3 linked regions of the Homo sapiens genome follow. The protein of the gene in region 3 purifies or fractionates together with the protein of the main gene of each other region. This does not show direct contact. Each region holds a gene or a part of one and is shown on either strand. Other genes may lie near its edges. The genes, in order: APOOL, C17orf75 and AIFM1.

The links.
Region 1: the proteins of AIFM1 (region 3) and APOOL purify together in Homo sapiens (affinity purification with mass spectrometry; 2 studies listed by BioGRID and IntAct, with this or other methods). This does not show direct contact.
Region 2: the proteins of AIFM1 (region 3) and C17orf75 purify together in Homo sapiens (affinity purification with mass spectrometry; 2 studies listed by BioGRID and IntAct, with this or other methods). This does not show direct contact.

What each region holds. Positions count from the first base shown.
Region 1 is NC_000023.11:85,052,351-85,056,002, reverse strand, and holds part of APOOL (MICOS complex subunit MIC27 precursor), read right to left. Parts: intron 1,660-3,652; coding exon 1,605-1,659; intron 177-1,604; coding exon 78-176; intron 1-77. UniProt on the Homo sapiens protein: Component of the MICOS complex, a large protein complex of the mitochondrial inner membrane that plays crucial roles in the maintenance of crista junctions, inner membrane architecture, and formation of contact sites to the outer membrane.
Region 2 is NC_000017.11:32,339,936-32,343,687, forward strand, and holds the start of C17orf75 (protein Njmu-R1), read right to left. Parts: upstream 2,239-3,752; 5' UTR 2,205-2,238; coding exon 2,065-2,204; intron 2,019-2,064; exon of another isoform or gene 1,866-2,018; intron 1,350-1,865; coding exon 1,269-1,349; intron 4-1,268; coding exon 1-3. UniProt on the Homo sapiens protein: As component of the WDR11 complex acts together with TBC1D23 to facilitate the golgin-mediated capture of vesicles generated using AP-1. May have a role in spermatogenesis.
Region 3 is NC_000023.11:130,163,670-130,167,421, forward strand, and holds the start of AIFM1 (apoptosis-inducing factor 1, mitochondrial isoform AIF precursor), read right to left. Parts: upstream 2,173-3,752; 5' UTR 1,988-2,172; coding exon 1,882-1,987; intron 1-1,881. UniProt on the Homo sapiens protein: Functions both as NADH oxidoreductase and as regulator of apoptosis.

The sequences.
Region 1 (3,652 bases), about 45 Mb from region 3:
TGAGGTTTTCTCATGACCACAAAATTCAGAAACTAATATCATGGCATTAAGAGAGAATATATTTTTTAAAACCCTACCTTTTCTCGCTGAAACCAAGCCCGCCAATCCTGAAACTGTAATAACTCCCATTTTCGGAAGAAAATCTCGAGGAGGATTCTTCAGATAGACATAAGCATCTCAAGAAATCAGTTAAAAATTAACATGAATAACTGAATTCTACTGGATATTCTATACAGTTATAATGCAGGAAGGTTAAAGAGATTTGCTAAGATAATAATGAGGTTTAAATATTCTTCAAAAGAGCTACATATAATGACAATATGAGTAGCAAGCTAAAAAACTAGATATATTTACTTGTTACAAAATAAAATTTTCCTTCCGTAGCTGATTTAATATTTCTTTTCCTAATGATACTGACGGTTATTACTATAAAGAAATGTAATGCTAGAGGGCACATCTTAATATGGGTTACTATAAGGTAAATTTCTGACTGCGTATGTATTATATCTCTATGATGAACTTCTGCCCTTATCTGTTCAAACACTGGTAGCCTCCAATAAGAAATGAAATAGATACTTTATTAAGGAGTTTTGAATAATAGTTTAAGGATATACACAGCTACTAGACCTTGCTTGCCACTACTCCCTAATAACCTCAGGACAGCCACTGCTGTTGGTTAAAGTCAATCATCAGTGAGCCTAGACAAAAAGTAGATGAAGAGTAGTTCTTGGCTTTCTATATGTTGAATTTGTTTCTGGTTCCAAAAGTACACTTTTCTATCATAGTTAATTATTTAATGGCAATCACATATTTAATCCTATTCCTCATGATTGATGAGGAATATAATTTTGAATTTATTCCTAATACATTAAATAATGACAATTCAAATACAGGTCATCAACTTCATGGAAACATTCAACATTTTAGCTCATCTTTCTATCTCCTATACATATTTATTATGACAACTGGCATAAGCCAAGAATATTACAAAGCTATATCTGTTGCCAAACACCATTAACAAGCTAAAGAGTCAAGTATAATTGCTTTTTAACCATTAGCTTAAATATTCCAGGGTTAGTGATTGCTATAACATTTCCTAGCAATTGACAGCAAAATACAATGTATTTTAACAGCAAGTAGCACTTAAACTAATTAGCAACAATGGAGACATGTTTTTAATTTATGCTTTATGATATATAATATAGACTTTGTAGTTAAAACAGACCTCAGTTTGTATCCTGGCACTACCACTTACAGTTACGTAAGCTCGATAACCTACTTAACCTTCCTAAACCTCAGTTGCCCTCATCTGTAAAATGGGAATAATTATAATACCAATACTAACATAATTGTGACAAAAATTATGTAAAATGCTAAGTACAACACCTTAGCCAATAATAACTGCTGAATAATGAATATTACTGCTTTGCTATTAATCAATAATCAACAAATAATCAATAAATTAATCAATAAATTGCTATAGAGAGTACCTTCTGAGTTGGTAAATGCATGATAATGGGTAACATACCAAGTTTATTTTTCTCACATTTAAACAATGCAATTTAAAAACACAATAAAACATTTCTAATTATCTACTCACCTACCTTTTCCAAATTGTACTGTATCCATTATCCCATTTTTCACAAAGACATAAACACCCTAAGCAAAAAAAAAGGGGGGGAAGACATCTGCATTTTTGAAGCTGTTGATAATGAGATAAAATTGCCTGCATCTCTGAGATTATATTAAAAGGTTGACTTAACATTATGCCCAAATCTAAATCCAGCTTTCCTATGTATTCACTACCAGCTTGTTTTCATTTCCTGCTTTTCATTCTATTTAACATGGATAACATTTATATCATTTTTCTCATATAAATGGATAATGTGCCTATGAAATAATCAGAGCAGAAATGATACTGAAAAAAATATTTATCATCTTATTTTATAATGACCTAGAAAAATAAATGGAATTTAAATAAAGAAGAAGGGAGGTATATTTCAGTTTAGAAGCAACATCTGATTAATAAAGTTGCAATAGCAACAACATAATGATTTGTGGAGGGAAAAAAAGAGCAAAAAGCCTAAAGCAAAGGGCTTCATCTTCCTCCCTTTTCTTAGTGTGCATTAGAATGAGAAAAAAATCTAAATTACCTCAGGACAGAAATCATCCTACATAGACCAGTGTTTATCCTGTTTTTAAATCGGAACATAAATTCTCTAGAAATCAAAACTATGTTAATACATCAGAGGAATTAAAGTTTTAAAGCAAATCTTTAACTTTACCTGTTTCTAACTGATTTATTTTAGTGCAAAAGAGTGTTAAATATATTTATTGAGTGCTAGGTATTACCTCACTTAGATAAGAAAAAAAAGGAAGTCACAAAATGATTTACTCGTGGTCATATTGTACTCTGTTGATGGAACCAGAAAACACAATCCTTCTCTGAACTAGCTGCTATGAAACCATGGGATAAAAACAAGAACAAAAGAGACTTTCAAAGCAGAGAAAACAGATATTATTATATTGGACAGGGAAGAAATAAGTTTTTGTTATAGAGATAGCTTGGTTTTGTAATTTTGTCTTACATATTTTAATGGTTATCAGAGAGATGCAGAGGTTCATCTTGGTTTAAAATTGTACAAATCAGCATAAACGCTAACTGCTATTGAACTACTTTTCTGTAGGGACTGTCTTGAGAATATTTCACCTTCAAAGTTAAAATACCTATTGACCAGTCGATTGGGAATCATTTAACCATTAAGGAAGAAAATTAGTCATCTTTCAAAAAAAATTTTTCTTAGCTCTGCTAAGGAATTCATTTTTACCACATGGGGTCAGTGCTACCTAAATTTCAAAACACTAAGCTAGCAGGAGTAGAAATTGAATTTGCTCTACATGATTCAAGCTTTAATGTGGAACGAATTTGAGTCAGACATAATTTTTAAAGAATGGATTACATTTTTAGGGGAAAATTAGGAAAAAAAATTGTTTACATTTAGGACAAAATGCACTGGAAATTGCCTTTCTTCAACCTATTTGTTTGAGCATATTAATGGAATAAAACATTCTTTTGAATCTTAAATTGGATGACAGTTACAATAGCAATTTAAAGACCTCTCAGGAACATTTTATCTCACTGAAGAAAAATTTCAGAACATTATGGAAAATTACATCTCAGGAGGCTTAAGTCTGAATCATCTAGCTATTGGCACATAGTCATAGGGGCATGATTCAGACCATAATTGGTTAAGGTATTTCCCTCTTAGATCAAACTATTAATAGTGTGTAGTACAACTAGTACCATAAGAATTGTATGACAAACACAAGTTTTCAAAAATAACATCATGTACTTATCAGATATTTGAAATATTATCTGGAATTACCAGAGTTCATTGATTTGGTATTTCACCTAAGCACAAATTATTTTTCATAAGTTCATTAGATTTCTTTTTAAAGATAATGGATAGAAACTAAAAAGAACAATGATTCACCATCAGGCTATATTTGGGGAAAAGTCGCATGGTTACTAGGTTAGAATGATGAAAACACTGGTACCAACATTAAGATACTGACACTGGAGATGCTAACACAATGATGTTTATGTGATGATAATGAAACATTAGTGTTGCATCAGCTTACTCCACCACTC
Region 2 (3,752 bases), on a different chromosome or scaffold from region 3:
AGGCTTGACAAATGAAAGACACACATTCTTTACCAGTGGACTAGGGTATTCACACCCATTAAGTCAGACAGAATGGTACCAACGCCAGGGGCTCTTTTAAGGACTGGGGAAAGCTGTCCTTATGACCCCTATTGGTGAGGCTTCTAGGAATGTATGTCACTAAGTATGATCTACCTCATCAAATAGCTTAAAATATTCCTATCTTTCCAGCTCATTCTCTCCAGTACTGTGACTCCACTGGAACCCCCAATCCACTGACCCTACCTCTTTTTCAGTCTCTCAAGTTTCTCATCTCACTTCCCTCCTTATTCTGCCTTAATTCCATGGTCAGTCATTATAATCACACCCCTGCACACATTCTTATCTTTTTTATCTTTCAACTTTATTGAGGTATAATTGATGATTTAAAAATTTCAGGGCTGGGGCCGGGAGCAGTGGCTCACGCCTGTAATCTCAGCACTTTGGGAGGCCGAGGCAGGTGGACCACAAGGTCAAGAGATAGAGATCATCCTGGCTAACACAGTGAAACCCCGTCTCTACTAAAAAAAAATACAAAAAAATTAGCCGGGCGTGGTGGTGGGTGCCTGTAGTCCTAGCTACTCGGGAGGCTGAGGCAGGAGAATGGCGTGAACCCGGGAGGCAGAGCTTGCAGTGAGCTGAGATCGCACCACTGCACTCCAGACTGGGCAACAGAGGGAGACTCTGTCTCAAAAAAAAAAAAAAATTTTTCAGGGCTGGGCAAGGTGGCTCATGCCTGTAATCCCAACACTTTGCGAGGCAGAAGTGGGCGGATCACTTGAGTCCAGGAGTTCAAGACCAGCCTGGGCAACATGGTGAAACCCCATCTCTACCAGAAATACAAAAATTAGCCAGGCGTGGTGGTCAGTAGTCCCAGCTACTGGGGAGGCTGAGGTGAGAGGATCACCTGAGGCCGGGGAGGTTGACGCTGCAGCGAGCCAAAGTCATGCCACTGCACTCCAGCCTGGGCAGCAGAGCAAGACCCTGTCTCAATTTAAAAGGAAAAAGAAAAAAAAAGGATTTCTTTTTGGCTAATCACCAAGCACACTATCAGTATGTGGATTTGTTTGCCCCAGCCTTGAATGAACCAGCCAATGAGGAAATCAGGATGAGGTTCCTAGGGGATAGGAGGAATTGACGGTTTGACTCAGGGAAAGCTCAGTGGAAATAGAGTATCCACTGACATGTACAGGCCAGAGATGCAGGGAAGATGAAAGCACATGCATGAATTATGCTGAAGCTCTTTTTACCTGAAATCATCACCAGAGGGAGTTTCTGCATTTGTGCCACTTGGGCTTCCGTCCTCACTGTCCCCTCGTTGCTGTGCCAATCTACAAGCCACAAAACCAATAGTGCTATCAATTATGGGCTCTAAACCAAGAGGAGTATGGGGGCCTGGCAAGCAGGGTAAGGCAAGGAGTCAACTAAAAATGCTGCAAGGTGGAAGTGCACTGCCTATCCTCATGACAAGGAAAACCCATACAGCAGTGCTGACAAGAGCCCCTTCTCTCTCCAGGCCACTTAACGGGTGGAGGAAAGGCTAAATACCCAGAAGGTTCAAGGAAACTCCTTTAAAAACCAAACTTGACAAGGCCAAGAAGGTTCCAGGAAAGTCAGAAGGAGGAAAAAGAGGAATCAAGAACAGAGGAAAACCAGAGGGTGGGGATGGGGGTGTGTGTGACAGAAATGGGAGAAGTGGGGAGATAATGACAGAAAGGAGAGGGGACGGGAACTGAAATTATTGAGCATGCGGGGCACTGCGCTAAACAAAGGGCAGCCGCGAGAGTAAGAGGCTGGGATGATATAGGGGCAGATGAAGGGCACAGGCATGGTTGGGCCAGGCATACAAGTCCACGACGGGGGCCAGGAAGAGCAGCGGGAGGCGAGGAGCGCCCTTCAGGCCAGAGACCTTGGCTGGGAGAGGAGAAGATGGCTTTTAGGAGCGGCCGGGCCGCTGGGCCGGGGGTGGGGTGCAAGGCCGGGCGGCGGGCCGGGGGCGGGGCCGCAGGGGCGGGCGGGCTGGCAGGCCGAGCTGGGCGCCAGCACCTGCTTCCGCGATAGCTGTAAAGACAGTAGTGGCTGCTGGACGGCGGCTCGAGTCTCCGCTCCTCGGCTGAGCCTCCCTCTTCGCTGCTCTCTAGTTCCTTTTCATCTCCATCCATCGACTCCTGCAAAGAGGGGAGCATTGCGGCGGCCTCTGAGCGGCCCTGTGTCTCCGCCAAACCGCTCCCCTGCTCCCGTGCAGCCGTCGGTATCAGGGCTCGTCCGGCTCCCGGCCCTCGCACACCTGCGTTCCGCTGGTTTCCCCGGGTTCGCAGGCAAGGACTGGCCTGGAAAGGGAGTCTCTTCTCCCCACAGGGGCTGACAGGCGTACTGAGTTCGCCTTTACTGACAAGCTTTTACCATTTATTTTGAACTTATTTTCCTTTGAGACATCTGGGAAACTTTCTATGTGATAAAGGTGGCACAACTACCTAGCCACATGGAAAAGAATAAGGCTACTCGTCTGCCTCCTTGCGCGCGTGCCAGCACGCACAGACACCCGTTTGATCAAAAAGTTAAGAATTTAAAATGAATTTTGTTAAAGTGAAAATATGGGATAATTTTGTTAATTCTTGAAGAGGGTCTTTCCAAACATAACAAAACACTTAGAAGTCATACAGGAAAACGTTTAAAAAAATGACTACGTAAAAACTAAAAGGCCGGGCACGGTGGCTCACGCCTGTAATTCCAGTGCTTTGGGAGACCGACGCAGGCGGATCACTTGAGGTCAGAAGTTCAAGACCAGCCTGGGCAACATGGTGAAACTGTGTCTCTACTAAAAGTACAAAAAAATTAGCCACGTGTGGTGGTTCACGCCTGTAATGCCAGCTACCCTTCCAGTCTCTGCCCATTACCCAGTTCTAACACCAATTCACATTTTCAGGTGTTTGTTTCTGCAACACCCCATTCTCTGGTACCAGTTTTCTGTCTCAGTCCATTTTATGATGCTATAAAAGGATACCAAAGACTGGGCAATTTATAATTAGCTCTTAAAGGCCCCACTTCTTAATAGTCTTACAATGGCAATTACATTTCAACATGAATTTGGGAGTGGACAAACACTCAAACCATAGCGCCACGTGAAGGAGGAGGCAGACTGGAGTGATGTATCTACAAACCAAGGAATGTCAAGGATTGATGGTCATCACCAGAAGCTAGGAGAGGACATGGAACAGATTCTCCCCTAGAGGCTTCAAGAGAGTATGTCCCCACCAGCACCTCCATGTCAACTTCCAGCCTCCAGAACTGTGAAATAATACATTTCCATTGTTTTAAGCCACCGTGTGTGTGTGCATGCGTGTGTTTTGTGTTTTTTTTTTTTATTTTTAGTAGTGCAAACTTTATTCATAAATAAAACTTCATAAAGTTAAAAGCAGGGGCAGTTCCTATTTTTAAAAAGGAATAGTGGAAGGCAACCTGCCATTTCATTTAAAATTACAAGTTAGGTTTTTCAGATGGATAACAGTTGAGATCGTTAAATCCCCTTCCTGCTTCTCAGATTTTCACAAAATAGCACATTAAATCCTCAGTCCTAAGCAATTATGGCAGAGATTCCAAATTGCCTCTCCATATCAAAGTGGATAGCACAGTTTCTTCTCTTGCAATAAAGGTACTCATTTGATGAACAAGTGAGTATAGCAGTCAGATTCTTAAAAGATTGTATTGCAGAAGTTACTGCCATGTCTTCATTC
Region 3 (3,752 bases):
ACCATTTGAGTCTGTATTTTTCAGTAGTTCTAACAACACCAACCACTTTCCAATGTCTAATAAATCAACTTAACTTTGCAAATGCATATTTAATTGATGAGAACTTTTGGTCAGACTTTAGAATGCTGGTAAAAGTTGTGAGACTTAAGCAAAACAACTACTCAAAGTTTGAAAGGCCAGTGTGGATGAAAAAATTCAGGTTATCGCCGGGCGCGGTGGCTCACGCCTGTAATCCCAGCGCTTTGGGAGGCCGAGGTGGGCGGATCACGAGGTCAGGAGATCGAGACCATCCTGGTTAACATGGTGAAACCTTGTCTCTACTAAAAATACAAAAAAAAAAAAAAAAAAATTAGCCGGGCGTGGTGGCGGGTGCCTGTAGTCCCAGCTACTCTGGAGGCTGAGGCAGAAGAATGGCGTGAATCCGGGAGGCGGAGATTGCAGTGAGCCGAGATCGCGCCACTGCACTCCAGCCTGGGCGACAAAGCGAGACTCCGTCTCAAAAAAAAAAAAAAAAAAAATTCAGGTTATCTCAATTTCTGTGCAACAAGCACAGAGCACCATCATTTCAATACACAAAACCCTCAAAGATGACATCCATTGATAAGGCATTAGTTTAAAAGCTAAGCAGAGGTTTTAAGTTCCAAGAGCAGTATGTCCCAGGACATAACTCAAATACACCTATCAGGAAACATTTTCATTGTGCATAGCAACTGGAAAAACTGTTCAAATGCACATTTGCAAAGACCCTAACAACCCAAGGAAAATATTTTCCACTTTTTATTTTTAAAGCACCCAGGTGTTTCTGTATTGTAAAAGCCTCAAGGATAACTTCTGACATTGCAAATGCCCTAGGGGTGGACATTGAAGGATTACTGATTTTTTTTTCAAAGCAACTCCTACAGGTGGATCATTCATTGCCCCCATGAAGTAACGCAGTACGAAAAGAAGCAGGCTCAAGCCATGCTCAGATAAATTCACGGATATCTGATGTACAATGGGCTAATTACTGGGAAGAGACCCGAATTCATTCTTAACTTTTTGAGGTCAACTTTAGGAAGCAGTATGGAGTTGCAGCGAAGGGATTAAGGACCTGGAGGCTAGCAAACTATCCTTAGCTCTACCTATTAATTAACTATGTGACCTTTGGCAAGTAATTTCACCTCTCTGTGCCTCAGTTTATTATCTATAAAATGAGTGGGTTGACCTTTACCACAAAATCCCTTCCAGCTCTAAAATTTGATGAAACAACTTAATGGAGAACAAAATACAATGCGTTCTGCAAACTGTTTCTTTGAAGCCTTAAAGACCACCAAGAAGTACACGGCTCAGGCATCTCCAATTAAGTCTGGGCCAATTCTCTGGGTGTCTGGTACACAACCAACCGACTCCTTACTTGCCCTGCACCGTTTCTGTTTCACTGGGCATTCAAATCCATGGATCTCATCTGTGGTTTGGAAGGCTGAGCAGATAACACCCTCATTTACACAAGAAACTTAGGCGTAGGGCTTAAACGTCCTGTTTAAAGTCTCAATCGGTAAATGACAAAGTCTACTTGACCTCATTGCTCTAAAAAGGGGGGTGGGGGGTGGGGATGCCGGGGAGGCGCCGACAGCCAGTTGTTCTGGGATCCCTGAACAGCAAACGCTCCCGGGAAAAGGCCTCAAGCCGACTACTGGGTTCAAATCTCTTGAAGGTCAGGTCGGCATGGCTGAGCCAATTCCTCCGCTTGCAAGACTCAGGGTTCGGAGTCTGCCAATTTGGAATTCACGTGACTATGTGTTAAGTTTCTCGCGGGGACGCGGGGGTAGAGGGCTGCAAGGCACAGGGAGCCTAAGGCGCCAGGCCCTCGGACTTGGAGGTTGCCTGGAATGGGTCAGTCACCTGGGAGCCGGTTCCTCTGCCTCGGGCTTCGGACGCACACGGTCCGCACCAAGGGCACCAGCTTCTGCTTCAAAGCACCCGCCGCCAGGCCTCCACACCGGAACATTTCGGCGACCGCTATTCGGGACCTCCTCCTTCCCTTTCCTCTCACGCACGACCGACGGGTCAAACACCGTGAGCCCCGGCCAGCTCCCCCAGTCTCTTCACACGCACATTACGCAGACTCCTCCTCCCAGCTCCGGGTGGGCATTGGACAGAGAAGCCGGCCTGCTAGAGCCGGGGAAGGGGAACGGCGACCGGAGGCCTACTGCGCAGGCGTAGCACTCGCTGCCGCATTGCGATTGGTCCGCACGGCGAGAGGATTTGCGCATGCACTAGCTGGCCGCAAGCTCGCAAAGACGCTGGCTCTAGGTAGCCGGTTTTCGCGAGTTTGTGGCACAGTGTTGGACTGAACGAGTTAAGGAACCTGTTCAAGGAGGGACTCGTGGGGCCGCTTTGATTGGCGGTTGTGCCTGGTGCTGCCGCTGTGTTGGTGACGAGAACTGATAACAGCATCTCACAACAGCGTAGCCCCGGCATCGCACTTTGTTTTTTGGTTTTAGGACACCAGTTACTTGATACCGAAGCCTTCCTGATTCTTTTGCAGTGATCCAGATCCAGTTTTTCCATGAGTCCGAGGCGCGGAACCTGGCTTCCCAGATCCGGCGTGTACTTCCATCTTTTACCAGTTGCCGGCTCTTTCCCACCCAACCCGTTTCCTGGACAAGTAATTCTGCGCTCTTCTTCCCGCCTGTCACCTTTATTTATTAGTTCAGTTGTGTGTCCTAGATGCTGTATACCAGGTGCTACAGATACACACAGTCTCCTGCTGTGGTTTCTGTGCTTGGGAGCAGGATGTTAGCAAAAAGCGTTCGTGCTTCTCGGACTTTCTGGGAAGAGAAGTCTGCTAAGCAGAACTTTCAGTTATGGGAGTAGGGTGAGGGGCTGAGTGTAAATAAGTGTTTTGACTCTGCCAGATATAAGCTAAATTGGAAATAATGTTTTGGCTGCATGCAGAACATACAATGTGCCTGTTTCAAAGATTCAGCTTACATATTCATTTAACAAGTATTTATTGAGCACTTACCTCTTGGATTGTACTATAAAAGGGGCTCTGTTGGGTATGAAAAGTACGGATGGTCCCCGACTTACCCCTCACAATGGTTCGACTTACAATTTTTCGACTTTATGATGGGTTTAATGAGACCTAACCCCATGTCAGTCGAGGAGCATCTGGACTTAAGCATGGTTCAACTTACGGTTTTTTGACTTTATGATGGGTTTATCAGGGTATTAAATGCAGTTTCGACTTAACGATATTTTCAGTTTACAATGGGTTTATTTGGACATAGCATCTATATAGGAAGTGGCCACTGTCTAGTTGGGGAGATGACATATACCGGTCATTGAAATAATATCTGGTGTAGTGCCGGACAGAGCAAGAGAGAAGACTATGGGATGGAATCACTATGGTAGAACTTCGTGTAAGAAGTTATTTGAGTTGTGTCTTGAAGGATGAGTAGTAAAATTCAAACAGTAGAGGAAAAGGATTGATATTTCAGATGGTGAATACTTTCGGACCAAAGATAACATTTTTCATTGTTAAACATGTTGACCTTGGATCCAGACCAACCCACATTGAATCCTGGCTCTGCCACCTGGGCAAGTCACTTAATTGTGCCTCATTTTCCTCATCTACAAATCTCAGGAGGGTGTTCGGAAGACTAAATGAGCTAATATTTGTAAAGTGTCTTAGAGGAAGCACCATGCTGTTTGTTAAATGAAAAGGCTTGGAACTGTTTTAAAAAACCAAAACCCAGCACATTTTCGGG